Homo sapiens: one gene and its partners. The protein of the gene in region 2 purifies or fractionates together with the protein of the main gene of each other region. This does not show direct contact. Each region holds a gene or a part of one and is shown on either strand. Other genes may lie near its edges.

Region 1 (7,462 bases), on a different chromosome or scaffold from region 2:
GCAAAGGCATGCTCTTGGTAGCAGAGTCAGTGGTTGGCTGAGCCTTGGGCAGTCAGGGGCCACACCCAGGCAGAGGACTCTGGGGCCACACAGGGCCTATGAGTCAGGGGGATCACACTCTGGCAGGGATGTCAATGAGGGCCACACTGAGACAGGCATGGTCAGTGGGGGTCACACGAGTTGGGGGTCAGTATTCATGCCTGGGGTAAGTAGGGCCACACAGGTCAGCAGGCAGGCTGTGGTCCTGGAGGCCACACCTCTCACAATGAGTCTGGCTGCGCAGCGCAGGGAATCCGCTGTGAAGGAGACACAGCCTGAGTCGGCCAGGCCCAGGCCATTGAGTACCAGTCGGTGACGGTGGCCGTCCGAGTGGATGTGACACTTGGGTCCTGGATACAGCTGTACTCCACCCCGGGCCCACTCCCCGGTCACACCTTCCTGGGACAGCTCCAGCTGGAAGGTGGCACTGCCCCCCTCACTGATGGTCACGTCCTCCAGAGGCCGCAGCACCCTCAGCTGCCTCGCTGGCCGGGGGAGATGGAGAGAGGGAGGATGAGGCCTCCAGCTCTGGGCAGGGGTTGCAGTCAATCCTCATCCCTTGGCCCTGCCTACACCCCTGAACACCCAACCTAAGGTCCTGACCAAAAAAGTTCGGAACCAGGGTGCAGGAAGAAAGGAGCACGGTGGACAGATTTGGCGGGGGGAGGGCTGTATCAGGGTTAGGAGATGAGGGCACAGGAAGGGGGAGAAGTGTGGTTAGGGGGTCGTGGAGTCTGGGTGAGGGGTGCTGTGACACTTGAAGGAGCACGGAATTTGGAGTCAGACACACTAGGAATGGAACCTCGCTCTACCACATAGTTTGTGTGCTATGTGATCTTTGGCAAATGGCCTGACCTCTCTGGACCCCAGTTGCCCCAGCTGTACAAGGTGAATAACATTGGGACACAGGTTTATTGTGATGATTTCTTGAATGAAATAAGTTAGAAGAGATGTGTCACAAATGACAACCATTCACCAAGCTCTGTGTAAGAATTTTCATGTTATCTCAGTTAATGTTCCCAGAGACACTTGAGACGGGGATCAACCCCATTTTTAAAATTTGAGACAGGGTCTTGCTGTCACCCAGGCTGGAATGCCGTGACATGATCATAGCTCACTATAGCCTCAACCTCCTGGGTTCAAGCAATCCTTCTGCCTCAGCCTCCCTAGTAACTACCATGCCCGGCTAATTTTTATTTTTTTTTGTGGAGATGGGTTCTTGCTATGTTGCCCAGGATGGCCTCGAACTCCTGGCCTCAAGGGATCCTCCTGCCTTGGCCTCCCAAAGTGTTAGGATTATAGGCGTGAGCCACTGCACCTGGTCTCAGCCCCATTTTTAAGGAGACTTGGCTCAAAGAGGTTAACTTGCATGAGGTCACATAGGAAACAGAGGGCTCCAGCTTTGGGTGGGAGGTGTGGGGTGCTGTTTGACAGCCATCCCTGCTACTTAAGTGGGTATGTGTATCCCTAGAATACATGCCTGAAGGATGCCCATGGCAAGTCTTTCTGGAGAATATTTGTGTTTATAGCAAAGCCGACTTGGAAATATGCAATGGAATGCAAAATCCACATGGACTTCTAAGGTAAATAAAAAATATTAGAAAAAGAAAAGTTTTGCTTTGGGCAAGCTGCTGCTGGGACGGCCATGGGTGACTTTTCTCAGCGATGAGGGGCACTTTGGTGGGGGCCTGAGGGACTCCAGGACAGCCAGAAAAGGCTGTGGTGTAGGGTGGGTAATGCATTAAGAGAGGACGGGGCACTCACGCCTCACGCTGAGCCTGGCCAGGGTGCGATCGTGGTGGCTCTCGCAGCCGTAGGTGCCCTGGTCGGCCAGTATGACACCATGGATGAAGAGGCGGTGGATGTGCCCATCCTGGGCCATGGACAGGCGAGAGTCGTGGGGCAGGGGCTGCCCACCTCGCACCCAGCGCACGGCCCCCGCTGCACCCACTCGGCCTGTCTCCACTTCGAGACACACATCCTGGCCTTCCTCTGCCCGCACATCCTGCAACCGCCGTAGGAACAGCAGCTCTGTCTCTGGTGGGGAAGAAGGAGGCCATGGAGTCTGGTGGGGTTGGAGGCTGGCCCCTTGCTCCATCCCACTGGTCTGTCCCTAGGTGGAGAGGCAAGGCTGCTGGAATCCTGGTTGGGAGTACAGGCACGGGACACAGAGTATCTCATCCTCATCAGGACCTAACCTCGAACATGGAGCCGGGCACTTGTGGCCGTGCTCCCTGCCCGCAAAGTCACGGTCCCTGCATCCCCCAGTTGGCAGCCTCGCAAGGTTAAGATGCGGCTTGAACCATTCTGGGCCATCTCCACCTGGGGCCCTGGAGTGACGACGGCCCCATTGCGCAGCCAGGTGACATCGGCATCTGGTGGGGAGACTTCACACCGGAACGTGGCATCATCGCCCTCGTGGACAGTGAGTGGTGTCAGCTCCGAGACCAGCTTCACCAGCAGTGGCTCTAAGGGGCACGGTAAGGCAGTGAGCTGGGCTGAGTCTTTTCTTCTCTCTCCTTTTCATCCCCTCCTCAGGATGCAGGCCCTCGTCCCCAGTCATTTAACAGACCTTCTGTGAGGACCTACTATGTATCGACCACACCGATGGCCCAAAGGACAAGATGCCAGCTCCCTGCCACTCCTTTTAGTCAGTTCCTCATAATCCTAGCCTAGCACCCCACCTTGGTGGCACCCTAATAATATCAATTACCAGGGACCCTATTTACAGCATTTACTTGTCACAACAGGCCTATAAGAAAAGCACTATCCCCTCTTTTCAGAGCCGGGGCTCAGACAGGTTGAACAACTTGGCCAATGTCACACAGCTACTGGGGCACAGAATCTAGGCTGGAACCTGGCTGGGTGGACTCTAGAGCCCCTGCTTTTAACCACTGGTTTATGCTGCTCTCAACATGAGGGTTTCTGGAAAGAGGAGCCCTGAGCCCCTATCCAAGTGATGGTCATGCACGCACTGGTTGGAGCCAGAAGCAGCAAAGCGGGGGTGGAGGAGTAAGGGGGCCCTAGAAAGTGGCAGATGGTCCTTGGGGTGCCACAGCCCACAGGGTGTGAGGGGTACACTGTTACCTTCCACGCTGACAAGGAAGATGCGGCTGTCCTGGGGCGCATCGCACAGGTACTCCCCAGCGTCCCCGCTCCGTGCCCCCTGCACCCGCAGCACCTGCCTGGCCCCGGCCTGCTCCAGCTGCACCCGCCCCTGGCTTGCCAGTCGCTCCCCGTCCTTGTACCAGCGTACAGGGCCCCCTGGCCCGGAGAGGTGCACCACCAGCTCTAGGTCCCCGCCTGGGGTGCTCCGAACCCTCGTCTGGGCTGCCTCGGGAGCTACCACCCGCACAGGGGGCTCTGTGGAGTCAGAGCTGGAGGTCACTGGGAGGGAGAGGCTCAGGGCTTTGAGGAGGGCACGGGGAGGCATGACGGGGAAGGTACTGAGAGAAGTGGGGCCAGGGATGGGCAAGGCATGCTGGAAAAGCAGGAATCCCGCAGAGTTTGGGGTGCCACTCTCAGGCTTGGTGCCACTCTCAGGCTTAATGCCCAGGCTGTACTCACCAGCCACCTGGACGGTGAAGCTGAGGCTTGGGGCTCCGGGGGCTGCTCCAGACTGGCAGGTGTAGAGCCCTGCATGGGCTGGGCCTGCAGCCTGGATGCAGAGGACTCGGCGGGGGCCCTCGGCATGGAGCTCTAGGCCCTCGCCCTCCTGCACGGGCCTCCCATTGTGGCTCCAGACCACGGGGGCGCCAGCCCGGGACAGTTCACAGCTCAGCACCACTGGCTCCCCAGGGGCCACACAGAGCGGGCTTGGAGTTGTCTCTAGAGCAAGGAACTGCACTGGAGGCTCTGGAGAAGAGAGGAAGGTGTCATCCCATGCTTGCCCTTGCCTCCCTGCCCTGGGTTGGCCAGGAGCACCCACCAGCCAGGATGACATTGAAGGTGATGGCCTCATGCCGGGTCTCACACACATACTCCCCGGCGTCCTCAGGCTGGGCGTGGGGCAGGGTCAGGGTGCGGGTGGGCCCCTCGGCACCCAGCTGCAGGGCATCTGATGCCTCCACTTCCAGCCCGTCCTTGTACCAGCGCACCTGAGACCCAGCTGGGGCCACCTCACAGCGCAGCTCCACGCGCCCTGGAGCCCCAAAATGCAGATCCAGGGAGCGGGCTGCCGGGTGCACAATCCTCTCTGGTGGGGCTGGTGGGTGGGCATGGAGAGGGGCACATAGGCTTGGCCAGCAGGCCTCTCCTGCCTCACCCGCCAGATCCTCAGCCCTCCCCACTGGCAGCACAGCTCTTGAGAACAGTGCCAGCTGCAGTCCATGGAGCAGCTGCTGTGTGCCAGGCACTGTCCTAAGAACCCTGTGTTTTTTCAATCAGTTACTCTGACCACCCTCAAGAGGTGCACAGCTGCTGGCTGCACTTCATGGCTGAGGACCTGAGGCCTCTTTAGAAGAAACTGACTTGCCTAAGGTCACACAGACAGAAAGAGGCAGATCTAGACTCACACCCAGATCTACACACCCCACTCCACACCCATCCCCACTTCCTATCCCCTTTCCCTGCCTTGCCTCTGATGCACTTGTTACCACCTGACAAACCATCTCTTTTATTTTTTGTCTGTCCACCCTCACCAGAGTTTAAACTCTGTGAAGACAAGAGGTTTAGTCTTATTGGTTCACTGCTGTATCCCCAGCATCTAAAACAGTGCCAAGCACATAGTAGTTGCTCAATGAGTATTGAACGAATGGATGAATGAACGAATGGTTCTAATTGCTGGGCACCCTCCCACCAGGCCTCTGGTCCTGACCTGATGTGGCTAAGCAGGATTCTGATGGCCAAACATGAGGAAGCTGGATAAGGGGAAGGCTGGGGATGGGGTGGGGGAGGTGGGGCTAGGTGGGTGTCTGTCCCTTAGCCCCCTACCTCTCTACCTCCTCTCTGTGCTGCAGAGACTGCCCACCTGTGACAGTGACAGTGAAGAAGGCCGAGTCATCTCCAGCATCACATACAAACTCGCCCCCGTCCTCGGGCTGAGCAGCAGGTAGCACCAGGCGGCAGCGTGGCCCATCCCTCTCCAGCACCAGGGCCTCGCTCTCCTCCACTTCCAGCCCATCCTTGTACCAGCGCACAGGGGCATCCTCCCGAGACAGTTCACACATCAGCACCACACACTCCAAGGTCACGGCGATCAAGGTCACCTCATCGCGAGGGTATATGATCCGCACTGGGGGTTCTGCAGGGTGGGGACAACCACAGCCTGTCACAAGCTCACCGTCAGCCTCTCTGGAGCCATTCGGCAGCATGAAGTCCCTATCACCCACATAATAATGAGAATAATAAGTAAAATAATAATAAGCAATAATAGGTCCACAGTTTGTTCTCTGAAATCCCTGGGGCCAGAGGGTGTTACAGAATCCAGAATGCTTTGGATTCCAGAAATGATGCGTTTCTCATCTATCACATACCTTCCTCAGCCCCCACGGGAGCCTCCCCCTTCATCGGTCACGTTAACATGTCTGTGGTATAACACATACTACATTCACCCTAAGCAGGATAGATTGAAAGATACAGAATCTTACAGATACAAGCATATATCTATAAGACACTCATATCTTATAGATATACAGCTATAGCTATATTCACCCTCAGCAGGATAATTAAAGCATAGAAATAGCTTCAGAGCAATCAAGCTCAGGTTTTCCTGAAATGACTTGGAATACAAAACTTACAAAAAGCCTTTTGATTTTGAGAGTTTTGGAATTTTGGAACCATGGATAAGGGATGGTGGATCTACAATAGCAAACATTGATATGACACTTCCTAAGGTCCAGGAACAGTCCCAAGCACTTGAAACATTTAACTCTCACGGCAATCCTAAGAGGAAGGTAGTGTTTTGTCCCCATTTTCCATATAAGGGACTGGGCACAGAGTGATTATACAACTTCCTTAAGGTCACAGCTGGCTACACCCACTCTGGGGCAGGAGGAGGAAATACCCTCTGTTAAAGGGAGGCTCAGACCCCACAGGTAGTGGCAGGAATTCCAAGCCAAGGCTTGCAGGAACTCAGTAATGCTTTTTGCATTCAACGTCTGTCTGAGAGTTCCCCAGGGGTGCTAAATGCTGATTCTGGGAGCTCATCTCCAAGTTCTGGTCACTCCTCTGCAGAAAGGGAACCATGTCAATATTAGAGGTGACCAGCGCATGGAGCCCAGGCCTGCCCACACCCCTGCTGCCCCCAGGTCCCCCCAGAATCTTCAAGTTTTGGGGCGACTACTGCTCCATTAGCCTCTGGCCCCCTGGTGGCTGGGCTGAGGAACTGCTAGCTTCCCAATCAGGGGCCAGGGTTGGGGGGGTGGGGGCTGGGGGTGGTTTATAGGGGCATGCATGGGCCGAGGTAACCACAAGCTCCCACTCAGCCCCCCAGCCTCCACGGAGACTCCTGCCTTGAGCCACACAACCCACCTCCCCCATGGGCTTGCTTGCTCTAAGGGTCTGGGGGATGCAGGCTGGTCCTCTGGGGCCGAGCAAGGCCAGGAGAGACCAGAATGCAGCTGCCTGAGGAGTGGGGAAGGTGATGAGGGCAGTGGGGTGAGGACAGGGTGCAGTGATGGGACCGGGTGGCTGCCCAGCCCCGGGACCTCAGCTTGGTGTCAGACTTGATTCGCTCTGGCCTAGAGCAGAGGTGGTGTTTGTGTGAACTTCCCTGTGAAGAGACTGGTGTTTGTGGGGAGCCTGAGCATGGGCTGGAGTTTGTGTGGCTGTGGCCATTCTGTCTGGCCATGGCTGGGTGGGAGAGGGTGAAGATGATTACGACAGGGCAGAATATGTGCAGAAGGCCTCTTAGGCATTGTGGGCTTGTGTGTGTAGAGTGCATTAGCTGGGGTGCAAGGAGCAGGGGGGCCCTAAACAGCTCTGCATGGGGCGTGACTTTCAGGGCAGGGCTGGGAGAGGACAGGACTGTGGCCGCAGTAGGATGGGGGCTCCAGTGCAGCCACTGGGGTTCTGTGCCCCCCAGAGCTGCCTAGCCCTATGGACCCCCAGCCCCAGACACACACTGGGCTGGGCGCTGTGAGCCGTCACCCCGAGGTCTCCGGCACTGAACCTCCGTCACTTCCACAGTTGTCCTGTGCTTCTCCCGCTTTGAATATTCCCCCACACCCCACCCCACTTAGCTCCAGTATCAGCTTTGAAAGCACTTCCTGTTGCCTGGCCAGGGTGGTGGCTCCCAGCCCCAGGGTCCCTAGACTGGCCCTCAACAACCCATGCTCTAAGATCCTGGAATGCGTCTGGCTTTCCTGCCAGGCTGTGCAGTCCTAGAGGGAAGCGGCCGTGTCTGCGTGCTGCTGGCTCCCGTGTGTGGAAGGGTGACTTTCTCCCAGGCCTCCCTGACCCTCCTGCTCTGTGCTCTTGAGCC
Region 2 (8,331 bases):
CTGCAGAATGGGCTGGGATGTCCACGGAGAGAGTGTGCAAAATCATGATAGGCTGTGTTTCAGGGCATACATGGAAAGCAAGGGATTGCTTCTGCAGGAGGGCAAAGACATCGGAGACTGCCCATAAGTAAGGGTTCCCTACTGCTTCTGAACAAATGCAAGAGAGTTTGGGACCCTAGCCCTGTGTGTTTATTGATATGCTGTGCCTGTAGGTACACAAGTAATCCCATATGCATGTGAAATGACCAGGGCATGAATACATGTGTGTATATACCCAGTAAATAGAGTACTTATTCTTTCTTGCTAATAAGAGTACTGTGCTTATGGACACATGTTTAACCATGTGTGGGTGCACTGTGCACCCATGAGCACATGCAAGAGATCCCTTTGTTCGTGGTGTGTGTGTGAGCTGGTTCTCCCACCTATCCCATTAAGGTCCTAATCCCCACCCTCCTTGGCTCCTCTCACTCCTCTCAGCGCCCTGGCTCCCCAGGCCCACCTAGACTCTGGAAGCCCCCCAGCAGGCGGATCTGCTCAGTCTGCATGGAGTGGCGTCTCACCAATTTGCGCTTGGTCCTGGGAGAGCCTGGCGCCCCGGCATAAGGAGGGGCAGGCAACGAAGGCGCCCGACCTCCGGGTTGTGGGCGAATGTCAGGGATGGGAGGGTGGGGACTGACGTTGAGAGGGGGTAGGAAACCCGGCCGCGTTTGCGAGATGTGGTCCAGGAGCAACGTCCCCGAGCCCCTCCGCTCCAGCAGCCCCGGACTCCGCCTCCTTCCGCTTAGCGGAGATACTGCCCCTGGCAGACTCTCCTGGGACTGGCGCGGAGAGGGAGCCGAGCCGGCTGGAGGGAGGGTCAACGGGGAGGCGCTGTATCGGCGGCGCTCCAGGGACAGGCGGCTGGACTCAGGCGAGTCAGGGCAAAGGTGTCCAGGGGTGTCCAGCTCCACTGGCTCCATGCGGCTCAGTTTCTGCCTCAGCCCTGAAGGGGGACCAGACTCCTGAGCTTCTGGTGCTGTGTTTCGGCGAGAGAGAGGACCCCCGCTAGTCACTTTCTCCGCCCATGGGGGCGGGTCCTCAGGGCCTTCGGTGCTGTGACGTCGGGAAAGACGGGGTCGACCGGTCAGGGTCAGGCCATTGAATTCGGCAGTCAAGCGCTCGATCCCCGGTCTCCCTTCAGTGGGTGGGACTGGTTGAGGAGGGGCCACTAGGCCCCAGGGCTCGGAGTTGAGCCTTTTGAGTGGTTTTGGGGGATGGCGTGGTGGTTTGGGGAGCGGCTCGGAAGGGGATGGGTCATCGGGGGGCTTAGGAAGAGGGAATTCAAATACGTCCCGCTTCTCCTCTTCTTCCTGGGCGCGAGGGGATAACATCCCACGCCCTCCTCCTCCAGCGGTCTGCAGTTGGATTTCCGAAGGCGACGTGCAGAACCCCGGGCTAGGAGAGGCGGGAGCAGGGTCCTCCACCCCTGGGGATGGTGGAGAATTGAGATACTGCCGGGTCTTCTTGGTGCCTGAGGGCGAGGTATCGGTGGTGATGATGATGACCTCCGTACCCTTGGCCTTGCAGGCGTCCAGCAGTGTGGCAAGGGTCTCGCGGTCCCCGCGGTCCAGGGCGTGGACAAGAGCCGAGGCGCCCGCGTGATCTCGGACTGAGGGGTCTGCGCCGTGGGCAAGGAGCAGCGAGGCCACCGCGGCGCCCCCACCCCCGGCGCAAGCGTGCATGAGCGCCGTGCGCCCTAATCGGTCTGCGATATTGGGGTCCGCGCCTTGCTCCAGGAGGTAGCGTACCATGCGTGCCTTGTTCTGGGGGTCGTCGTAGCGGGCCCGACAGGCTGCCATTAGCGCAGTCTCCCCCTGCGCATCACCCTCATTCACGTAGGCGCCTCCCTCCAGAAGCAAACGGGCCAAGCGTAGCTTACCCTGACCCACCGCCCGAAGAAGAGCGTGGCCCTCGGTGTGCAACATAGCTGCGGCTGGGGCGAGGGCACAGATGGAGCCGGGACTGAGACCTGCCGAGGATGACTAGGGGTATGGGGAGGGGGAGTGGCTGGCAGAGGCCTGAGGTCTCAGTGACGAAGCCGATCCCTGCAAGAGAGACATCTCATTGATAGATTCGGCAGGAAAACTGAGGCACAGATGCAGGGACCCAGCGTGGGGTGGAGGAGACCTTCACGGCATACAGTCCTTCCTCTAACTCATGCCTTTGAGCCGGCCCTTCCCCCGCAGCGCATGCCTGAGGAGGTGGGAAGGGTGCACCCGCACTGAAGGACTAGCGCGCGTGCAAATGCGTTCGTGCACGCGCAGGGATGTCCGCACCCCCACCCTCACCCCATGGCTTATCAGACCTTTCCTCTGTCCCCCTTGTCTTATCCACACTTGGGATCCCCCTTTCTAGGATGCTGAACGCCACCCACCCACATACATGCACCCTACAGTCACACATGTATTCTCATTCCTAACCTGTTTTAGCTTGCCACAACCCCAAAAATTGAGTGGGGGGAGGGAAGCAGCCTGCATTTGAGACCTAAAACGGGTGGAGGGAGAATTGGGGGGTTCTATTGCCCCTGCGATGTTCCCCATCACTCCTTGCTCTTTCCCCTCCCAGGCTGTGTGCCCAGATAGATACCTGAATGTCCGCAGAATCTCCGCCTGGCCAGGATTGGGGCCGTGGCCACGGGGCAGCCGAGGTGGCGGAGCCAGTTTCCTGGGGGCCCGCATGGCGTGGGGGGGGGGGCACCCGGATTCCCTTGGTGTCAGTATCTGCGCCCCGGCGCCGGATCCTGGTCCCTCCTCCCGGAGCGCCCCGGGCACAGCGCCGGCTCGGGAGGAGAGAAGCTTGGCGGGGGGGGGGGGGGGGGGGGGGGCGGAGCTCTGCTGTGCTATTTATAGCCTAGTCACTGCGGGTGGGGGCGTCAGGCACCAAACTGCTCCCCCACTCATGCACACATAAACCCTCAAAAACCTAGAGGCTCCAATCCTGACTTCCTTTTCTCAGCCGACCTCCCCTCAGCCCCAACAAACCTAAGTGTTCCTTAGGGGACTCCTCCGCGACCCAGACAGGGACCATCATCCAGATTCTTCGCTGAGATTCAGCAGATCCCCATTCTCCGCACTTGGTGTGTTTGTGCGCTCCTGTGCGCCAGACCTGACCTGCCATACACGGCACATGGCACACTGTGTAAGAAAGGTGTAGAAAGGCTTTTTGGATCCACAGCCGGTGTCCATACTGTGCAAAGAGAGGCAAGAGATGTGGCTTTCTTCCTGTAGTTTAATTGTGAAGGAGATCACGGTCCAGCCTGGAGTCAGACACAGATACACCCCCGCCCCATCTCTCAAAAACGGAACACCCATCGCAGAGAAACTTGGACCTCAGCTCCCTTATGTAGACCTCTTAGATAAGTATGAGGAAGGTGGATATGGGAGCACTTTTAGATAAGGCAAGGGACATTCCAGGTGCCTCCACCCCGTATTATTGTGGGCAGGGAGATAGGACAGGGGCAGGAAGAAGAGCGAACCTTGTAATACACTCTCTCACATTGCATCTCTTTAATCTCAGTCTTGCTTAGACGTCTTATTTTTTCCATCTTGCTTGACGATCTCTGTCTGAAACATTCCTTATATCTTCTCTCTTCCTATCTGTCTATTGGTCTCTCACACTGTCTCTGCCTCTCCTTGCCACCTGCCCTGTCTCCATGGTTACCATAGCTTCCATCCACATATTTTAGGAATGAGTTTGTGTCCAGCTGGAAGGCACCAAGGGAAGTGGGAGAAAAAGAAAAATCCTAAGGATTTAAAAAGTTCACTCAGGGTCCTGAGCTAATTCAGAGGCTGGAGGCCCCCCAGATGCAAGATACTGAAAATAATGTTCCCGGGGATGGGAGAGAGAGAGAAATATTTGCAGGAAGCTACCCATTTTTACTAGTTATTTCTTGGACACGTGTCAACTATGTGCCATGTGCTTTACATACACTATTTTCAATCCTCACAACTTTATAAGATAGGAACTATCATCTTCTTGTTACAGATGAGGAAACAGACTTAATAAGGTTAAGCAAGCTCTCCAAAGCTTCACAGCTATGTTTCTGTCCTATGGCAAAGACTGGGAGCTTGCCACTACACCTACAGCCTCCCAGTCTACAGGCCATTTTCTCTGACATCTGGGATGTTCTTCTTGACTAACTCCTAGATTTCATCTCCATTCTGAACCTTTCTCCCTTGTTTCTGCTTTCTGTGAAAATAGGACTCCTCCTTCCACTCTGCTGGCTTTCCCAAGGAGCTCGCAGGAAGTGGAAAGTAGTGGAAAATGCAGAAAAAGCTGGGCTCCTGCCCTGTCTCCCCAACCCTGGTACGCTGATCCCAAATCCTTCCTTTCTTGAACCCTCTGCCCACCTTCTCACAGACACGGCAGCAACCCACAGAAAAACATTTTTAGAAAAGAAGTATCCATTGGTGGTGCTGGAGAGAGGCAGTGTATGATTGAAAGGAAGGCTGGAGTAATGGAGAGACCAAGCTATGAAGCTAGAGTCACAAAAAGACTGATCCCTAAAGAGCAGCTTTTACAGAGGTTCATTTCTCCGTAGGCCCTCTCCTCCTTTGGCCTCTCTGTAGGGGCTCCCTCAACACGGTCCCTCGATGAGATATGAGTGTCACGTTCCCTCGGTGAACTCTCGCCGGCTAGTGGCTCCTTCATCTGGAGTGAGACCGGAAATAAGTGACCCCAGCTGATTCTGCAACGCCCATCTCTCTCTGCGACCCGCTTCGCAAGCTTCGGTTCCGGGCGTACTCGCTCCCTCCCTCCTTCTCTTCCTAGGCTTCAAGAGGGCGGACTTCCCTCCTCGGCTTCTCCTGCATTGGCCGAGAAAACTCACCAATAGGGAGCTCCGGGAGGCGGGCTTAGAACGCCACCGACTTGAGGAAGCCCAGTACATTTCAAGTTGGTCGCGGCTTGGGCTCCGCTTTGGGGAGGGGCAGCAGGTAAGGCTTGACCTGGTTCGGTCCGACACTTGCCAAACTTGTTCACCCCGGCCAGGCTGCGAAATAGACAACGCTTTCCGTCAGGTTGTTGGATCAGCCCCCTTCTGGCTCCCTACCGTTTCTCCCCTGGGCTTCCATTTCTGTATTGATTGTATACTAGAGAATGGCAGTTTTCTATCGCGCATGGGGAGAGACATTAAAGCAGAAAACGAGACAGCCTCTTGTATCTGTCTTTGCTATAGCATCAACTTCCCCCTAATCTATTAATATTATCCCAAGAGCCTGACAAACTCCTGTTATCTATGAAGACTAGCTGAAATGCTACCTGTAGTTTTCCTGGGCCGCCTTTCTTGCAAAATGAATTGTTCCCCCGTCTACGATAGCGTTTTGTATATACCTTTATTAGGACACTTAGTGCACTGTCTCTCTTTAACGTTTCTATGCCTTTTAGAATAGAAGGTTTTGTAGGACAGGTGCTAGTAGTTAATATATAGTGCCCAATAAACGTTAGTTAAATAGAATTGATTTCTGGTAACTAGCACTCTTTTTGGGGAGGCAGAATTTAAACTCCTAACATAACTAGGGAACAATAAAAGACAATACAGTATGTAATTAAGAGCCATTAAATTAGTGGTTCATAATATTAGTGTTTCATAATTGTTTCTACAATCTAGAGAAGGAAGAAAGCAAGGAGAACTGGAATGGTGAGGGGAGGCTTTATGGATCACAATTTCTCAAGTTTGGAAAGGCCCATAGAAATGATGTATTTATTCATTCAATAAATATTTATTGAGCACCTACTATATGCCAGACACAATGCTAAATCATGCTGATCATAGGGAATCCTCTACTAGAGCCATGCATCCTTCTTACAAACCCTATGTAGTAAATTTTTACCCAGCTTCTATGTAAACATCTTTAGTAAGGGAACTCTCTTATCTCTCTTGTAGATCATTCAATTTTTTGATACCTGTTCTTTAGTCAATATCCTACAAATATTCTAAATAAGAAATATATAGCTAAAGGAAATGCATTCCACACTTCCACTGTAAAAGAGGGAAATATGGCTGGGCACGGTGGCTCATGCCTGTAATCCCAGCACTTTGGGAGGCCGAGGCGGGCAGATCGCCTGAGGTCGGGAGTTGGAGACCAGCCTGACCAACGTGGAGAAACTCTGTCTCTACTAAAAATACAAAAATTAGCTGGGCGTGTTGGCGCATGCCTGTAATCCCAGCTACTGGGGAGGCTGAGGCAGGAGAATCATTAGAACCCAGGAGGCGGAGGTTGCAGTGAGCTCAGATCGCACCATTGCACTCCAGCCTGGGCAACAAGAGCAAAACTCCCTCTCAAAAAAAAAAAAAAAAAAAAAAAAAGGAAATCTGTCCTTTTACAGTGGAATTGGTAGCATTCTTAAAAGCAAGCCATTTCTGGCTGGGCGTGGTGGCTCATGCCTGTAATTCCAGCACTTTGGGAGGCTGAGGTAGGCAGATCACTTTAGCCCAGGAGTTCAAGACCAGTCTAGGCAACATGACAAAACCCTGTCTCTACAAAAACTACAAAAAAAATAGCCAAGCATGGTGTCTCAGGCCTGTAGTTCCAGCTGCTCAGGAGGCTGAGGTGGAGGGTTGCTTGAGCTGGAGAAGTCGAGGCTGCAGTGAGCCAAAATTGCCACTGCACTGCACTTCAGCCTAAGCGACAGAGCAAGAACCTGTCTCAAAAAAAAAAAAAAAAAAAAGAGGCCGGGCGTGATGGCTCATGCCTGTAATCCCAGCACTTTGTGAGGCCAAGGCGGGTGGATCACGAAGTCAGGAGTACAAGACCAGCCTGACCAACATGGAGAAACCCCATCTCTACTAAAACTACAAAAAAAATTAGCCAGGCATGGTGGCGCATGCCTGTAATCCCAGTTACTCGGGGGGCTGAGGCAGGAGAATCACTTGAACCCAGGAGGTGGAGGTTGCGGTGAGCTGAGATTGCGCCATTGCACTCCAGCCTGGACGACAAGAGTGAAACTGTCTCAAAAAAAAAATAATAAAATAAAAAGAACATAAATAAATAAAATGGGTATTTTTTAACCATTCATTTATTGTTAGATTGTTTCAGTTATTTCAGAATTTTTGCTACCATAAATAGCTCTTTGATGAATATCCTTTTACTTATATCTGTGACTGTATATCTGTTGATGTCTTTGGAATATATTTTTAAAGTGGGATTGCTGGATTAGGGATATAAACATTTCAAAGGCTGTTGATTTAACTGGACAAATTGCTCCCCTTGAAATATTATGTTTATAGTCTTTCCAGTGAGGTATGAGAGTGTCCATTTGAAAAAAAACTCATGACAGCCTGCTTATTATTTAAATCTTTGTCACTTTCATAGGTGAAGAGTGGTTTTATTGGCCATTCTCTCTCCTTTTTTTTTTTTTTGAGACAGTCTTGCTCTGTTGCCCAAGCTGGAGTGCAGTGGTGAGATCTCAGCTCACTGCAACCTCCACCTCCTGTGTTCAAGTGAGTCTCATGCCTCAGCCTCCTGAGTAGCTGGAATTAAAGGTGTGTACCACTGTGCCTGGCTAATTTTTTGTATTTTTAGTAGAGACAGGGTTTCTCTATGTTGCCCAGGCTGGTCATGAACTCCTGGCCTCAAGTGATCTGTCCACCTCGGCCTCCCAAAACCCTGGATTACAGGAGTGAGCCACCATGTCCAGACATGGCCATTCTCTTTGCCAGTTGCCTGTTCATGTCCTTTGCCCATTTTTTCTATTGAGATGATTTTTTAAAATTTGGATTTCCAAGATTTTAAGGGTGTTAATTTCTTGCTTTATTTATTACATGTATAGCAAATTCTACACATCAGCGTGCCCCAGGCCTCAGTGCCTGGATTTCTTATTTTCTCTGTCCACATCCACTCCTTTAGGGGTCTCACCTAGTCTCATGGCTTGAAGTATTGTTTGTTTGCTGATGCCTCCACTGGAATGAAAGCTCCATTTAAACCCCGTGGGTGCAGCATGTTTTTGTCTGTTTTGCACACTGCTATATCCATAGAATCTAGAACAGTGCCTGGCACACCTAGTAAGCACTCAGTAAATATTTGTTGAGTGAAATGATTCTATTATTGTTATTTTTATTCCCATTTTACAGATGAGGAAACAGGTTTAGAGACAATAAATAAATTACCAGAGTTTTGTAGCTAGGAAATTGAACTGGGATTCAAAACCATATTCTTAACCTCTACATGTACTGCCTTCCTTAAATTTGATGTAATTGTTAGTGTTTTTCTGTATGTTTAGTTGAAACCTGCCTCTCAGTAACTTCCACCACAATATATATGTATGAATAATTGGGAATGAGCATAGTGTATA
Region 3 (7,462 bases), on a different chromosome or scaffold from region 2:
CCTTCCTTCCTTTCTTTCTTCCTTTCTTGTTTTTGATTAGAGACACTTGAGCCCAGGCTGGATTCAAACTCCGGGACGAAGTGATCCTCCTGTCTCAGCCCGGAGTAGCTGGGATGACAGGTGTGAGCCACAATGCCTGGCATTCCCTTATTTCTTTTGCACAGGCATGAGCTTTCTCTCCATACACAGGTGCACACACTTACTTTACTGAACCATTAGAGAGTTGTAGATAGCAGATCATTTCACCCCTTCTTGAAAAAGGGCATTCTATGTAGCTACAGTCGCCTTATCACACTCAGGAAACTTAGCGATGATAATCTACTATTATTAAGATACAATGTAAACTCACATTTCTTCAGTTGCCATAATAGTGTTCTTTTTCCTCCCAATTCAGGATCCAGTGAAGAACTACACATTGCATTTAGTTGTCATGTTTCTTTAATTTCCTTTCCTCTGGAAGTTTCCTTAGCTTCTTTTTGTGACATTGGCACTGTGACAGATGACATTGATATTTGAAGAGTCTAAATTTAACCCAGTTGTTTTGAAGACTGTTCCTCAATTTGGAATTCTCTGATTATATCCTCATGGATAGATTTGAATTAAACATCTTGGGGCTGGATTGCTCTGAGGGATGTGTCTTTCTCATGCGTCACATCATTGGTGCTGTGAAATTGGATAACTTGATTAAGTTGATGTCTGTCTGGTTTCACCATATCCTGTTGCCAACAACCTGTCGTTTAGTGGTGGTTACAGTAACTTCTCAAAGATAAAAACTGCCTTTAAAAAAATTCCCCAATACATACAGCTCGTTTAGGACTTCATAAAAGGTAGATAAAGTACCTCTTGACATTTTATTAAATAAGGAAAGGCCTAGCATACATTGATTGGCATTTATTCTGTGAATATTTAGCTGGGTTTTAAAAAAATTTATCTTCCTGATAAAATCAATGAATAAATCAGCTTCTGTCAGCCAGAGTCTGTTACACAGAGTACCTGTGTAAACATCAATTGGTTCTCTTGATCCCAAAACACAGATTCATTAAAACTTATGTGAAAGAGGGTTTTCCTCCTTTATATTCGTTCTAGAAGAGGCAGAGGGTGTTCTTTGGATTCTTGCATTACACTATTGACTTGTTTAGTGGGGTAGTAACTTGGAATGGCCAAGGACAAATTTCCCACGACGTGGAATATTCTGAATGACAGAGAAGGGGCCATTATTTGGAAATAAAGTTGTAACAGTGCACCTGCGATGGATCCATTGGCCCTGAAGAGAAAAAACATTCATATTTTTTCTCGAGTCAAGTATTCCAGGAAGGGATGTTTTAATGCCTCATATTTTGGAGAGCACAGGGAGTTATAACTCAATTTCAAGCAAAGATAGGAGGAAGCCAGTGGGCAGATTTCCTGATTAAGCAGGCAAAGATGACATGTGGTTTGATTTGTCATTTTCAATTTTAAATGAACTCTGTCACATGCACTAATTATGCATTGTCCTTCCTGTGTTAGATTCCTTTCAAATATGATACTCTTTGTGACTTCAGTGTGTTTGTGGTCATTTGGGCAAAGCAGCACTTTTGTGAAATCGTAGCTTGAATCACTGGTAGCATTTGGTAAGCTTCACAGAGCTGATTTGATTATAGTGCTGACATCACTGTGCTGATGACCTAAGGCCGAGGTCTATCTCTTTGTGAACCACTGTTAGTTTTGCTTTATTTATTGACTCGGAAGTCACCTATCTGGCCCATGCTTTTGAAGTCTTGGGTCATCATTTGGATCATCTCGCCACACTCCTGGTTTAAGAACATACAGAGGTCTCTGTTGCACATTACAAATCAAGTGCAGACCCCTCTACCTGATTTTTAAGGATTCTGCATGACCAGTTTCCATTCATCCAGTTCAGTCTCATTTCCCACAGTTCCATAGTTACCTTCCACTTTATTTAGACTTCTTACTGTGTGACCTTGAGCAAGTTACTTAATTTCTGAGTCTTGTGCTTTATCTCTGCAGAGTAGGAATCATACGAATAGCTCCTACATCACAGGGTTTTCAGTGAGAATTAACTGGGATAATATCTTTTACAAATAATAGCCTTCCATTATGGAGATGTTAATACAAGTACCAAGAACTATTCTAAACTTTTAAAATTTGTTGTCTCATTTTATCATAACAGTTTGATGAGGTAGGAGTTGCTGGTGGTAGTGGTAGTTGCCCAGATAGTAGTAGTGATAATGTTGGTGCTTATTGAGCACTTACTATGTTCCAAGTACTTTACATGTTTCCAGTGAACCCTGTGAACAGTCTTACAAGGTTGATACTATAGTTGCCGTTTCATAGATAGGAAATGTAAGCATAATGAGATTAAGTAACTTGCCTAGATTCACATGGCCAAAGAATTCAGGAGCTGGATTTAGAATCCAGGCCATACTTTTAGATACTAGTTTCATCCCATTTTTATTTTAGAAGGAAAACTTAAGGAGTAATTAACTTAACTAAAATTCTCACAGCACATAAGTGGCAGAGCTAGAACATGAACCCAAATCTGATTTCAAAACTATGTTCTTTGTCATACTCCACTGCCTCCAGACTGCTGAAAACAATGCTTTCTGATATGCTATTGTAGAGTGGATCGATTGTGATTTAATATATGTCACATCGTTGTGTTTCTTCACTCAGGAAAGATGGCATATTGCCTGGATTAACTGTTACACAGGGAACCAGGCTTTTGGCCACTGCTTGCCACCCTGACTGTACCTGTTGAGTTGACGTAGGTGGTGAACACCCTGGGAGCATGGCAGATATTTGGCAGGATACTTGCCCATGGCTGGAATTCCCAGTGGTGACATTGGTGTTAAGTGGGCCATTTCTGTTGATTCAGCAGGAGGACGTGGCAGCCCAAGATGTCAATAGCTGATGGGAGGCAGATAGTAATGGGGAGAGGACATGGCTGTGGGATGGGACAGCACTTTGTTCCCAAGTCTACTCTGAAATTGCCCACAGCTAGCTAAACCATGTTGGACTTAGGACATTTCTCAGTTTCAATTTTAGGTTGTAGTCCCTAAATTCAAAAAGTGGACTACTGTATCTTGACAGGAATTCTTTTACAGAATTTGATACCCAGAAAGGGGTGTGAGCCCAGACTGATGATAGCTTACTTTTCTTTTTCAGGAAGGATGCCAATTCTGCGCTTCTCAGTAACTACGAGGTAAATTGGATTGTTACATTTTCCTCTCTGATAGTTTGCCCTTCGCTCCTGAGATTGTTAAATTGATTTTGGTTAGAAATGACTGAATTCAGGCTGGGTGCAGTGGTTCACGCCTGTAATCCCAGCACTTTGGGAGGCTGAGGCTGGATCACTTGAGGTCAGGAGTTCAAAACTAGCCTGGCCAACATGGTGAAACCCAGTCTCTACTAAAAAATACAAAAATTAGCTGGGTGTGGTGGCACATGCCTGTAGTCCCAGCTACTTCGGATCCCAGCTGAGGCAGGAGGGTCACTTGAACCCAGGAGGCGGAGGTTGCAGTGAACTAAGATGTGCCACTGCACTCCAGCCTGGGCAATAGACCAAGGCTCTGTCTCAAAAAAAAAAAAAAGAAAGAAAGAAAGAAAAAGAAAAAAGAAATGACTGAATTTATTTGGATTTTCCACTTTAAAATAAGACATGGCAACATCTGGTGGACCTTGGAATAGTGTAAGCTTGACACGTTATACATAGTACTTCAGGAAAGCTGGGAAGACTCTATTTTAGAGGGGGCAACCTTCTCTAAATCTCAACGATTCCAAATCATCATTTGGGATGTAGTCATAGGATAGAAGCATCTATTTTAAGGCTGTTTCTGTCTGCAGAATTTCCCATTAAAATTTTTATGATTTTTCCTAATTATCACCTTTGATATATTTATATATTTATAATGCTTTTATACATTGCAAATAGTCTTATGGGTATTAACATCCTTATTTTGAAAGTGAGTTTAAGCCGAGCACAGTGGCTCATGCCCATAATCCCAGCACTTTGGAAGGCCAAGGCCAGCGGATCACGAGGTCAGGAGATTGAGACCATCCTGGCCAACATGGTGAAACCCCATCCCTACTTAAAAAATAAAAAAAGAGAGTGAGTTTAGTTGACTCACCTTTCTGAATAGTAGAAATTAAGAAATGTAGAATTTTTTGGGCTTAGGGTGGGATTGCTGGAGAAAGGAAAAGAAGGAAAAAGGTTGGTAAGAGAGGAGATATTCCAGCATTTTTGCCTCCTATTTGGCACTAGCAAAACCATCTGATAGGCTCACTCCAGGTGTAGAAAGAACCATTTATACCTTGACTGTGAATTTTCCATGTGCTAGAGTCTAAACTCAGAAAGACTCAGGAGGTCTAGAAGGTAGTAGGTTAAGTGCAGTGTCTCACGCCTGTAATCTCAGCACTTGGGAAGGCCAAGGAGAGAAGATTGCTTGAGGCTATGAGTTAGAGCTCAGCCTGGGAAACCTAGCAAGACCCCCAGCTCTTAAAAAAATAAATTAGCGGCCGGGCGCGGTGTCTCACGCCTGTAATCCCAGTACTTTGGGAGGCCGAGGCGGGCGGATCACGAGGTCAGGAGATCAAGAACATCCTGGCTAACACGGTGAAACCCCGTCTCTACTAAAAATACAAAAAATTAGCCGGGCAAGGTGGCGGGCGCCTGTAATCCCAGCTGCTCGGGAGGCTCAGGCAGGAGAATGGCGTGAACCCGGGGGGTGGAGCCTGCAGTGAGCCAAGATTGTGCCACTGCACTCCAGCCTGGGCGACAGCGAGACTCCGTCTCAAAAAAAATAAAAATAAATAAATTAGCTGGACATGGTAGCAAACACCTACTATGGTCCTAGCTACTTGGAAGGCAGAGGGGAGGTTCGCTTGAGCCCAGGAGTTTGAGGTTACAGTGATGACCACTGTACTCCAGTCTGGGAGACAGCTTTTGAGACCGTGTCCCCAAAAAAAAGCTCCCAGAGTGTAAGACAGCAAAAAGAAAGAAAGAAACCTACCCCCTTGTGGTGCTCCCCTCCCCCGCCCCACAAAAAAGAAGGTAGTAGAATAAACAGAGTTGGCCATATTCTTTCCTCTCTAAAGGCTCAGTCTTAAGTGGTTGCAGCTTAGAACAGGAAGGAAATGGTTGAATGGTTTTTGGCCAAGCCTTTGGCTTTTAGGAGCCTCCTTGTCCAGTTTGGACTTTGCTAGGTGTTTGGGTGTTTTATCCATTGGGGAAACATTGCATTCATTGATCTCATGCCACTATTTCTGAAAGGACCAGCAGATGAGAGGGGTCGTATTGTATCTGGTGATGGTGTGTGAGCCTGCATTTTCTTCACTTCTGTGGTAGAATCTCTAAAACAGGAATGAGACTAAGATTCCCCCCTGCCCCCAGCACTAATACATGTATGTTTTATCCTTGTGGGAAAGTTTGCTTCTAAAGATCCATAGCATTTTTTCCTTTCTTTTTTGGGGGGTAAACTCTGTCTTATCACTTGCCTCAAAATTTTTCTTTTCCAGAAAGAAATTATTATATTAGATTTTTATACTAGAGAAGCAGGATTCTTTTTTTTTTTTTTTTTTTTTTTTTTCAGATGGAGTCTCGCTCTGTCACCCAGGCTGGAGTACAGTGGCACCATCCAGGCTCACTGCAACCTCTGCCTCCCGGATTCAAGTGATTCTCCTGCCTCAGCCTCCCGAGTAGCTGGGACTACAGGTGCCGCCACCATGTCCAGCTAATTTTTTGTATTTTTAGTAGAGATGGGGTTTCACCGTGTTAGCCAGGATGGTCTTGATCTCCTGACCTCATGAACCGCCCACCTCACCCTCCCTAAGTGCTGGGATTACAGGCGTGAGCCATCATGCCTGGACCCAGAATTCTTTTTTAACAAAATATTTGCTTTAAGAAAATCTGCTTTCAAATAGTATATTTTTGAGATCAGATTAGTGATGTACATATTGATAGGAAATATTTGAAATATTTTAAGTAAATTAATGAATTTGAATTATTTGGCTTATATAAAAGAACATTTTTTAAAAATGTAATATGCCTCTGGGACTCATATTTGCTCAAATCCAAGAGTTGGAAGCTGGGTGATGGGCGGGTGAAAGGAAGTACTATACTTTCCTGTTTATCCTTCAAAACCACTGACCTTGGATAGATATATTTCTCAAATTTATTCATAAACGTCTTTTTTGTATCTCCTCCTAGGTATTTCAGTTACTAACTGATCTGAAAGAGCAGCGTAAAGAAAGTGGAAAGAATAAACACAGCTCTGGGCAACAGAACTTGAACACTATCACCTATGAAGTAAGGCTGGGCTTCTGCCAGGCCTACCTAAAGTACCATTGAGGGAGGGGGGTTTATTCTCCCAATGACTGGCAGCTGAAATTAAGATTGCTTTTTATATGATCTGAATGTTTTATTCTAACCTGATTTTTGTTTGTTTGTTTGTTTTTTGACACAGAGTCTCGCTCTGTCGCCCAGGCTGGAATGCAGTGGTGTGATCTTCGCTCACTGCAAGCTCCACCTCCCAGGTTCATGCCATTCTTCTGCCTCAGCCTCCCGAGTAGCTGGGACTGCAGGCGCCCTCCACCACGGCCAGCTGATTTTTTGTATTTTTAGTAGAGACAGGGTTTCACCATGTTAGCCAGGATGGTCTCGATCTCCTGACCTCGTGATCCGTCCGCCTAGACTTCCCAAAGTGCTGGGATTACAGGCATGAGCCACCGCGCCCAGCCTACTCTAACCTAATTTTTATTCTGTTTATAGAAGTGAGAGGAGTTTGGTCAAGTTTAGAGTTTAGCCAGCTACAAAGTTAGAAGGAATAGTGTAAAAGATTGCCCTCATTTCTCCTTGAAAGGGGATCACAGCTCACTGCAGCCTCAACCTCCTAGGCTCAGGTGATGCTCCCAGCTTAGCTTCCCAAGTAGCTGGGACTATGGGCATCCACTGCCACGCCTGGCTATTTTTTGTTGTTGTTGTCCAGGCTGGTCTCCAACTCCTGGGCTTAAGGGATCTTCCCACTGCAGCGTCCCAAAGTGCTGGGAACTTACACGCTTAAGGCTATTATTTTTCAAGTTTGAGATTCCTTCCAAAATATGTAATTATAATTCCTCCGAAATTTTATCTATATTCTTCCTCAAAAGCCACAAAATCTGTGTAATCATGAGAAAGCATCACATCATTGCAAATCAAAGAAAAAAAAGAAAAATCTTTTTATTTTGAAATCATTTTTCTTTTTTTTTTTTTGAGACGGATTCTCGCTCCTGTTGCCTAGGCTGGAGTGCCATGGCGCAACCTCGGCTCACCTCTGGCTCCCGGGTTCAAGCGATTCTCCTGCCTCAGCCTCCCGAGTAGCTGGGATTACAGGCATGCACCACCTTGCCCGGCTAATTTTGTATTTTTAGTAGAGACAGGGTTTCTCCATGTTGGTCAGGCGGGTATCAAACTCCCGACCTCATGTGA
Region 4 (7,462 bases), on a different chromosome or scaffold from region 2:
CGGGAGCATGCAGCTCTGGAGCCTCGCCACCTTGGGGGCCGGGCCATCATCACCAAGAGCTTTGCCAGGATCCACGGTGAGCTGGAGTCTGTACCCAGGCCATCCTCATCCCATCCCTAGTGATCAAGGTCACTCTCCCTGCCCGTGGCTGAGTTGGGCCTGGTTCTAGGCTGTGTCCACTGCAGCCCACAGGCCCGTCAGCCTCTTGCCCCTTCTTAGGCTCACACAGTGCACATCCGACGCTCAGCTTCCCGGCTTCCCGCAGGCCCTGCTTCCAGGCTTGTAGATCTGAGCCGCTGAGATCTAGGACATGTGCCAGGGGGTTCTTTCTGATCATGAATGTGCAGCAGGAAGGCCTCGCAGACCTCAGCACCAGCGCACACTTGCTAGGGGCACCCCTAGTGAAAGGGAGCAGACCAGGGCCCCATAGTCACTGCCCGGGCATTGTCCCAGGCAGCAGGATTAGGGGCATCTCCCAGAGCCCCAGATGGGTTCAGAAAATGAAGCTCTCCAGGCTAGTCAGGCCCCCGATGACCGAATGCCGCCTGCTTTCCAGAGACCAACCTGAAGAAACAGGGCCTGCTGCCTCTGACCTTCGCTGACCCGGCTGACTACAACAAGATTCACCCTGTGGACAAGCTGACCATTCAGGGCCTGAAGGACTTCACCCCTGGCAAGGTTAGGGGCCCGGGTCCCCCTGAGGTGGTGGGGTGAGGGGCAGCCACCTTGTTTCCCCTCCTGCACTGGCCCCAGGGTAGCTTCTCCCAGGAGGCTTCATTCCAGCTGGAAAGGCCCCCAGTTCTCCAGGTGGCCCCACAGAGAAAGCAAAGTGGCTTCTCAGAGTTGGGGGTTGGAGTCAACCCGGGGCCCTCACACCTCCCCAACCTCCCTTTACTCACCAGGACCTGGCACTCAGGGGACAGCCCACCCACTGCAGGACCCTCTGGGCCCCAGGAATCCCCTGTAGGTGCCACCTGGGTCTGACCTGGGCCATCAGGCACAGACTGGCCTAGGATTTGGTTTGCCTGCTGACCTCTTAGGTCCCCAGGCAGTGCCCTGTCTCCCTGACCCCCCTGCGGGGCCAAGGGCACACAGTACCCACCACTTCCACCCACACCCACCTTCTCCTTGCAGCCCCTGAAGTGCATCATCAAGCACCCCAACGGGACCCAGGAGACCATCCTCCTGAACCACACCTTCAACGAGACGCAGATTGAGTGGTTCCGCGCTGGCAGTGCCCTCAACAGAATGAAGGAACTGCAACAGTGAGGGCAGTGCCTCCCCGCCCCGCCGCTGGCGTCAAGTTCAGCTCCACGTGTGCCATCAGTGGATCCGATCCGTCCAGCCATGGCTTCCTATTCCAAGATGGTGTGACCAGACATGCTTCCTGCTCCCCGCTTAGCCCACGGAGTGACTGTGGTTGTGGTGGGGGGGTTCTTAAAATAACTTTTTAGCCCCCGTCTTCCTATTTTGAGTTTGGTTCAGATCTTAAGCAGCTCCATGCAACTGTATTTATTTTTGATGACAAGACTCCCATCTAAAGTTTTTCTCCTGCCTGATCATTTCATTGGTGGCTGAAGGATTCTAGAGAACCTTTTGTTCTTGCAAGGAAAACAAGAATCCAAAACCAGTGACTGTTCTGTGAGTGATTGGTGTCTGTGCCGTTTGTTGTCAAGTCCAGGGTCCAGGAAGGGTCTTTTCAGTCAAGGTCAGTGGAGGCCCAACAGCCACAGCCACAGATGGATCCATCACTGCAGTGAAGGAGGAGCAGGGCCTAGATGGTGGAGGAGCGGGGCAAGCTGGTGGGCACTCCTGGCCTTGCCTCACTGTCCAGCTCGAGACACTATCTCCTTAGCATCGGCCTCAGCTGCTGTTGTCTTCACAGCCGGCCATACCACCTTCCCGCAGGCTGGTAGGGTCCACTGTCCAGCCCCAGGGCTAGTTGCTGGTCCACCAGGAGAGAAGGCCCAGGCCTGGCTCACTGATGGATCCCTGCCAGGGATAAAGAACACGCACATTTCACTGACATGCTGGCTTGAACCAACCTGGACAGGAGGTGAAGGGAGCCCAGCAGGCCCAGCACAGGCAAAGAAGAGGCGGGGCACACGGCAGCCAAGAGGCTCTGGAGAGATGTGGGAGCCACAGCAGTGCTCCCAACGGGCACGCAGCACGCAGGGCGCAGACCCTTCTCCAGGGACTCCAGGCCCTGATAGGGTCAGGGACCCTTCCTCACCCTTAGGCCTGCCCTCCAGGGCCACCTAGGTTCTAATCGTGGCAGGAAGGCTGAGCAAACACAAGGCCCATGCTCCAGACGCATCCAACAGGGAGCAGCCTTGAAAGCCACTCTTCCCCGGAGCCCTCCCTTTTATTTCACTGCTGCAATGCTGCTCCTACAGGGAGCCCTACCTTTTTTTTGTTGTTTTTTTTTTTTGAGACAGTCTCGCACTGTCACCCGGGCTGGAGTGGAGTGGCACGATCTTGGCTCACTGCAACCTCCACCTCCCGGGTTCACACCATTCTCCTGCCTCAGCCTCCCAAGTAGCTGGGACTACAGGCGCCCGCCACCACACCCGGCTAATTTTTTGTATTTTTAGTAGAGATGGGGTTTCACCGTGTTAGCCAGGATGGTCTCAATCTCCTGACCTCGTGATCCGCCCACCTTGGCCTCCCAAAGTGCTGGGATTACAGGCGTGAGCCACTGTGCCCCAGCAGCCCTACCCTTAATCTCAGGGCTTTGATCTCTCCCAAGCCCCTTCCTTGATTTCTTTCTCCCTCAAACCCCTCCCTACCCCCCAATTTTTTAAAGATAGCATTTCATTGTGTTGCCCAAGCTGTAATGCAGTGGCACAACCTTGAACTCCTGGGCTTAAGGGATACTCCCATCTCAGCCTCCCAAGTAGCTGGGACCACAGGGCACGCCACCATGCCCTGCTAATTGTTTTTTATAGAGACAACTTCTCACTTTTTTAGCCAGGCTGGTCTCAAACTCCTGGCCTCACACGATCCTCCCACTTTGGCCTCCCAAAGTGCTGGGATTATAGATGTGAGCCACTGCACTTGGCCTCAAAGCCGCTTTATCAGTGGTCTTGTCCACCGTGAGCTCTGTCCCCTTTGCAAGCTGACTCGCCCACCCCACCAGCAGCCATGTACCTTTACTGCCTCACAGCCCTGGCCTACAGAAACTCAGGCTCTCCAGGGAGAAGTGACCAGCCAAGACCCCCCAAACAGGATCCCTGACCTGCTGGGGGAGATCCCAGAGCAGAAGCCCCAGGACACAGCTTCCAGCCCTGCACTCCGGCTCTCCCGCCTCATGGGGGCTTCAGCACCATCAGAGCCACTCACCACAAGCGTGTACGGAGCCTCCTTCTTTGGCAGCTCCTCACTGGAAGTGGTGGCATCTGCTGAGCTGGGCCCTGTGGGGGACGTGTCAACAAAGCTCTCGTCCACCACCCGGAAGCGGATCTCCTCGCCGGTGTCCATGTAGAGGTCGTGTGCTCCTTCCTCCGTCTCGTACTCCCACACCCACACCTGCTCCGCTTCGTCGCTGAGGGGGTCCAGGGTCAAGGCAGCAACCAGATAGTGGGAGGGGCTTCCCTCAGCACCCACTCCCCGACCCCGCAGGAAAAACCAATCTCAGGGTGAGATCACTGTGGCTGGGAAGTCACAGGAAAAGCAGGTCCCAGCCCCATGCACAAGGCCTGGGCCAAACAGAGAGGAACAAGCGCTCTTGGAGGCCAGGACCCAGGAAGGGGAACATGGGGTCCCCAGCCAGGCACCACGGCCAGACGCACATGGATCTCAGAGCACCAGAGCAGGAGGGGACGAGACAGGGTCCGAGTCCCACCTCTCAAGACAAGAGCAACCTGGGCCTCCTGCCACGGAGCCCCACACACCCTTTTCATCAAAGCCTTGTGACAGGCTGATGGGCACCCAAGGACTTGCCGTTTTCAAGAGGACATAGTGGGATGGGAGGTCACCTGCCCACTTGGATGACAGGTGGTGAGAGAACCAGCCGGGCTGCGCCAGGTTTTCTAACACATCCTGGAGTCACATGCAGACCCAGAGCCGTGCTGCCACCCAGCCAGGGCAGTCCCCCTTGGCTCTCCATCGTCCCTGGCAGAGCCCACACAGGGGAGCCATGGGTTCTCTGGTGGCAGTCCCACTGTTGGGTCCTGCCTCTGTGCCAGGTCCCGTGCTGTGCACCGTGGGTACAGCTGTGACATGTCAGAGTCCTTCCCAGTGAGGAGCCTCAGATTTGTGGATAGCCCCACAGAAACAGACAACCCCAGTACAGCAAGGTGAGGGGTGGGACAGGGACAACGGAGGCCCAGGAGGAACACATCTTAGCCCACGACCCGGCACACAGGCAAGGCCTCACGTCCCAGGGACCAGTGCATGCCTCCAGGGCAAGTGATCTTTAAGATGATTCCTGCAGGGACAACCTAAGTGAAGTGAACCGGAAGTGAATGGTGTCCCCCAGGACACCACAGCTCTAATGGTGTGCAGTGTACAACCCAGACAGCCAAGCCTGATGGCCCCGACAAAGACAGGCATGTGGGCATCACATGACTCCCTGCATGGGAGGCACAGACAGGCTGGTGCCTCTGGAGCAAAAGCACAGGCGAGGGGCAGGCACAGAGGCCAGTGACATCAGGTTACAGGCCCCAAAGGCCACCCTAAGGAGTGGGGACCTTCCTTTGGAGAGGCCTGAGCTCCCTGTGACAAACCACTTTAACCCTTGGAGGATACAACTTGGCTGGCTGCTGCAGTGACTCTGGGGGGATGAGAATGTCATCGAAGAAGCCTAGAGAGACTGGAAGGAAGGAAGCAGGTGACGGCCTGAGATGGGGGTCCCAGTGGACGCCAAACACTGCGGGGTCTTATGCTTGACAGGCAAGCCCTGCCTGGGGCTGCCCACGAGGCGGATGTCGCTGTGGAAACCTAGGCCCCTTCCCCACCTAATGCCTCTGCGTACACCACCCACATAGCGGAGCAGCCCTGGGCAAAGCCCGGAGCACCTAGTCCCCAAAACCTCTGCACACAACAGGGGCCAGTGGGCGCTAAAGACTCCCAGTCACTTCCGCCAGCTTCAGTGCCCACCCTGAAGTCCTGAGTGACGGCCTCACAGTGAAACCGCACTGCTGATGGAGGTCCTCACACAACACATAAAAGGGAGGGTGGGCAAGCTTCTCTGACACCACGGGGAAGGTTCGGCCTCGACACCTGAGCCCTCCCCTGACCATGTGGGTGGACACAGACCTCCTGCCCCCACAGTGTTCCCAAGTCTTGTCTGAGGCGTCAGGGCCACTGTTACCGTGCACTCCTTCTGGGCTGCAGCCTTTGATCTTCCCAATGAGAATCTCATCTAGGAATGGATGAAACACCACGCAGCGAAAATGGACTGGAAATGAAGACAGCCCATCAGTGATGCTGACCGGGGCCCCAGTGCGCTCCCATGTCACCCTCAGGTGCCAGCACACCTGGGGGCCTGTGTGGCTGCTCCATGCCACATCCCCCTGCAAGCCTAGACCCTCCCTTTGTCTCCTGCAAGTTCACAGCATGGCCCCCACAGGGGGGCAGCAGCAGCTGTCCTGTAACTGGGCACTCCCAAAACTGCCAGGTTACTCACACCTGAGCCCAGATTCTGAGCCATCAGTGGCTCCAAAGTCAATTTCAACCTCCCTCCAGGCTCTCCTTCAGCTCCTAAAAAGGGCAGAAGCAACTGGTAAAGAACGCAGGGTTTGGAAACTCCCACCTCCTGCTGAGCAGCAAAGTCGGCCCCAGGCACAGCTCTGACCTGGAGAGGAGGCTAAAAATGCCCTGGTGTTGTGAGGCGCAGGCCAGCAGCCCAGCAAAAATGCCTCTGTGGGTTCTCAGGCCATGCTGCAGGTGGTCCCCACTCACCTGACTGCAAGGAAAACACCAGGTGGGGTCTGTGCCCACATCGCACACTCTGACCCCAGGCCCTGGCATTAGCTGTATGTCACCTTGTCACTCAGGCCCTTGCTCGAAGCCCCAAAGTAGGAGTCCAACGCTGACCTGAGAATCAGCACGCGGCTGCCCCCTGCTGGTTACCAACAGAGTTCCCACCGTGAGGATAAGGCAGTGGCTCAGAGCCAGGGTGACCCACTCACAGCCACATAGCCATGGGGAGACACCTGGTCTTTCTGTACCCACCAGACAGGGCCACCGGGTCGAATCTTGCCTTCCTCAGACAGGTTTAATCCCAAACACAGGCTTCCACGATGCCGTCAACCATTTAGTCGGCCAACATGCCCCCCAGGACGGCAGGGACCCTGGCATCAGCAGGGCATGAGGAGAGGCAGCCGATGGACCTCTCACCCTGGGAAGACACAAACGTGAGCCATCACAGCCACCATGAAGATGACTGGGCCTTGTGCTGACCTCCCAGAGAGCAGATGAGGGCGGCCAAGGGCCACTTACGCACAGATGGAAAAACCCTGTCCCCCACATGGCCCAACATTCAGTTTGGTTTAATAAATCCTCACAGAGGCCGGGCGGGGTGGCTCAAGTCTGTAATCTCGGCACTTTGGGAGGCCGAGGTGGGCAGATCACCTGAGGTCAGGAGTTTGAGACCAGCCTGGCCAACATGATAAAACACCGTCTCTACCAAAATACAAAAATTAGCCGGGTGTGGTACCAGGTGCCTATGATCCCAGCCACTCAGGAGGCTGAGGCAGGAGAATCACTTGAACCAGGAGGTGGAGGTTGCAGTACGCCAAGATCATGCCACTGCGCTCCAGCCTGGGCAACAGAGCAAGACTCCGTCTCAAAAAAAAAAAAAACTTCACAGAGCCTGCACCAGGTTTGTGCCAGGCCCAGTCTGGGCACTGGGCTCACGGGGGTGGGACAGCACATGATCCTGCGCCCAGGGAGCCCCAGGCTGGAACAACCACATCCAAAAGCAAATGCTGGGCACCCGGAGTCCCCCATGGATGGATGAGTAAACAAAACATGCTGGAGACACACAATGGAATATTATGCAGCCTTACAAAGGAAGGAATTCTGACATGCACTACAGTGTGGCTCAACCTCGGGCTGAACCTTCACATGGGGCCAAGTGAAAGCAGCCAGACACAAAAGCCACACAGTGTGCGACTCCATTCATGTACAGTGTCCAGAACCACATCCATAGAGACAGAAAGCAGTTAAGTGGCTGCCAGAGGCTGGGTGAAGGACAGGATTAGCAGTGACTGCTACTGGGCGGGGTTTCTTTGTAGGGTGATAAAAACGCTGTGGAATGGCCCCGCGCACGGTGGCTCAAGTCTGTAATCCCAGCACTTTGGGAGGTCGAGGCGGGCGGATCACCTGAGGTCAGCAGTTCAAGACCATCCTGGCCGACATAGTGAAACCCCGTCTCTACTAAAAAAATACAAAAATTAGCCAGGCGTGGTATTGGGTGCCTATAATCCCAGCTACTTGGGAGGCTGAGGCATGAGAA

What was found.
Region 1: the proteins of POLR3GL (region 2) and OBSL1 purify together in Homo sapiens (co-immunoprecipitation; 3 studies listed by BioGRID and IntAct, with this or other methods). This does not show direct contact.
Region 3: the proteins of POLR3GL (region 2) and CRCP purify together in Homo sapiens (co-immunoprecipitation; 4 studies listed by BioGRID and IntAct, with this or other methods). This does not show direct contact.
Region 4: the proteins of POLR3GL (region 2) and POLR3H purify together in Homo sapiens (co-immunoprecipitation; 5 studies listed by BioGRID and IntAct, with this or other methods). This does not show direct contact.

Annotation. Positions count from the first base shown.
Region 1 is NC_000002.12:219,554,217-219,561,678, forward strand, and holds part of OBSL1 (obscurin-like protein 1 isoform 1 precursor), read right to left. Parts: intron 5,282-7,462; coding exon 5,009-5,281; intron 4,244-5,008; coding exon 3,968-4,243; intron 3,895-3,967; coding exon 3,607-3,894; intron 3,403-3,606; coding exon 3,127-3,402; intron 2,508-3,126; coding exon 2,238-2,507; intron 2,077-2,237; coding exon 1,804-2,076; coding exon of another isoform or gene 1,781-1,803; exon of another isoform or gene 933-1,780; intron 525-932; coding exon 258-524; intron 1-257. UniProt on the Homo sapiens protein: Core component of the 3M complex, a complex required to regulate microtubule dynamics and genome integrity. It is unclear how the 3M complex regulates microtubules, it could act by controlling the level of a microtubule stabilizer.
Region 2 is NC_000001.11:145,959,796-145,968,126, forward strand, and holds the start of POLR3GL (DNA-directed RNA polymerase III subunit RPC7-like), read left to right. Parts: upstream 1-4,894; 5' UTR 4,895-4,973; intron 4,974-8,331. Other genes in the region: ANKRD34A (ankyrin repeat domain-containing protein 34A), read right to left, coding at 474-1,964. UniProt on the Homo sapiens protein: DNA-dependent RNA polymerase catalyzes the transcription of DNA into RNA using the four ribonucleoside triphosphates as substrates. Specific peripheric component of RNA polymerase III which synthesizes small RNAs, such as 5S rRNA and tRNAs.
Region 3 is NC_000007.14:66,124,539-66,132,000, forward strand, and holds part of CRCP (DNA-directed RNA polymerase III subunit RPC9), read left to right. Parts: intron 1-3,165; coding exon 3,166-3,202; intron 3,203-5,588; exon of another isoform or gene 5,589-5,710; intron 5,711-6,205; coding exon 6,206-6,304; intron 6,305-7,462. UniProt on the Homo sapiens protein: DNA-dependent RNA polymerase catalyzes the transcription of DNA into RNA using the four ribonucleoside triphosphates as substrates.
Region 4 is NC_000022.11:41,527,345-41,534,806, forward strand, and holds part of POLR3H (DNA-directed RNA polymerase III subunit RPC8), read right to left. Parts: intron 6,344-7,462; exon of another isoform or gene 5,630-6,343; intron 5,402-5,629; coding exon 5,315-5,401; coding exon of another isoform or gene 5,260-5,314; intron 4,814-5,259; coding exon 4,750-4,813; intron 3,545-4,749; coding exon 3,343-3,544; intron 1,993-3,342; coding exon 1,939-1,992; 3' UTR 1,270-1,938; coding exon of another isoform or gene 1,135-1,269; 3' UTR 679-1,134; coding exon of another isoform or gene 557-678; 3' UTR 77-556; coding exon of another isoform or gene 1-76. Other genes in the region: ACO2 (aconitate hydratase, mitochondrial precursor), read left to right, coding at 1-76, 557-678, 1,135-1,269.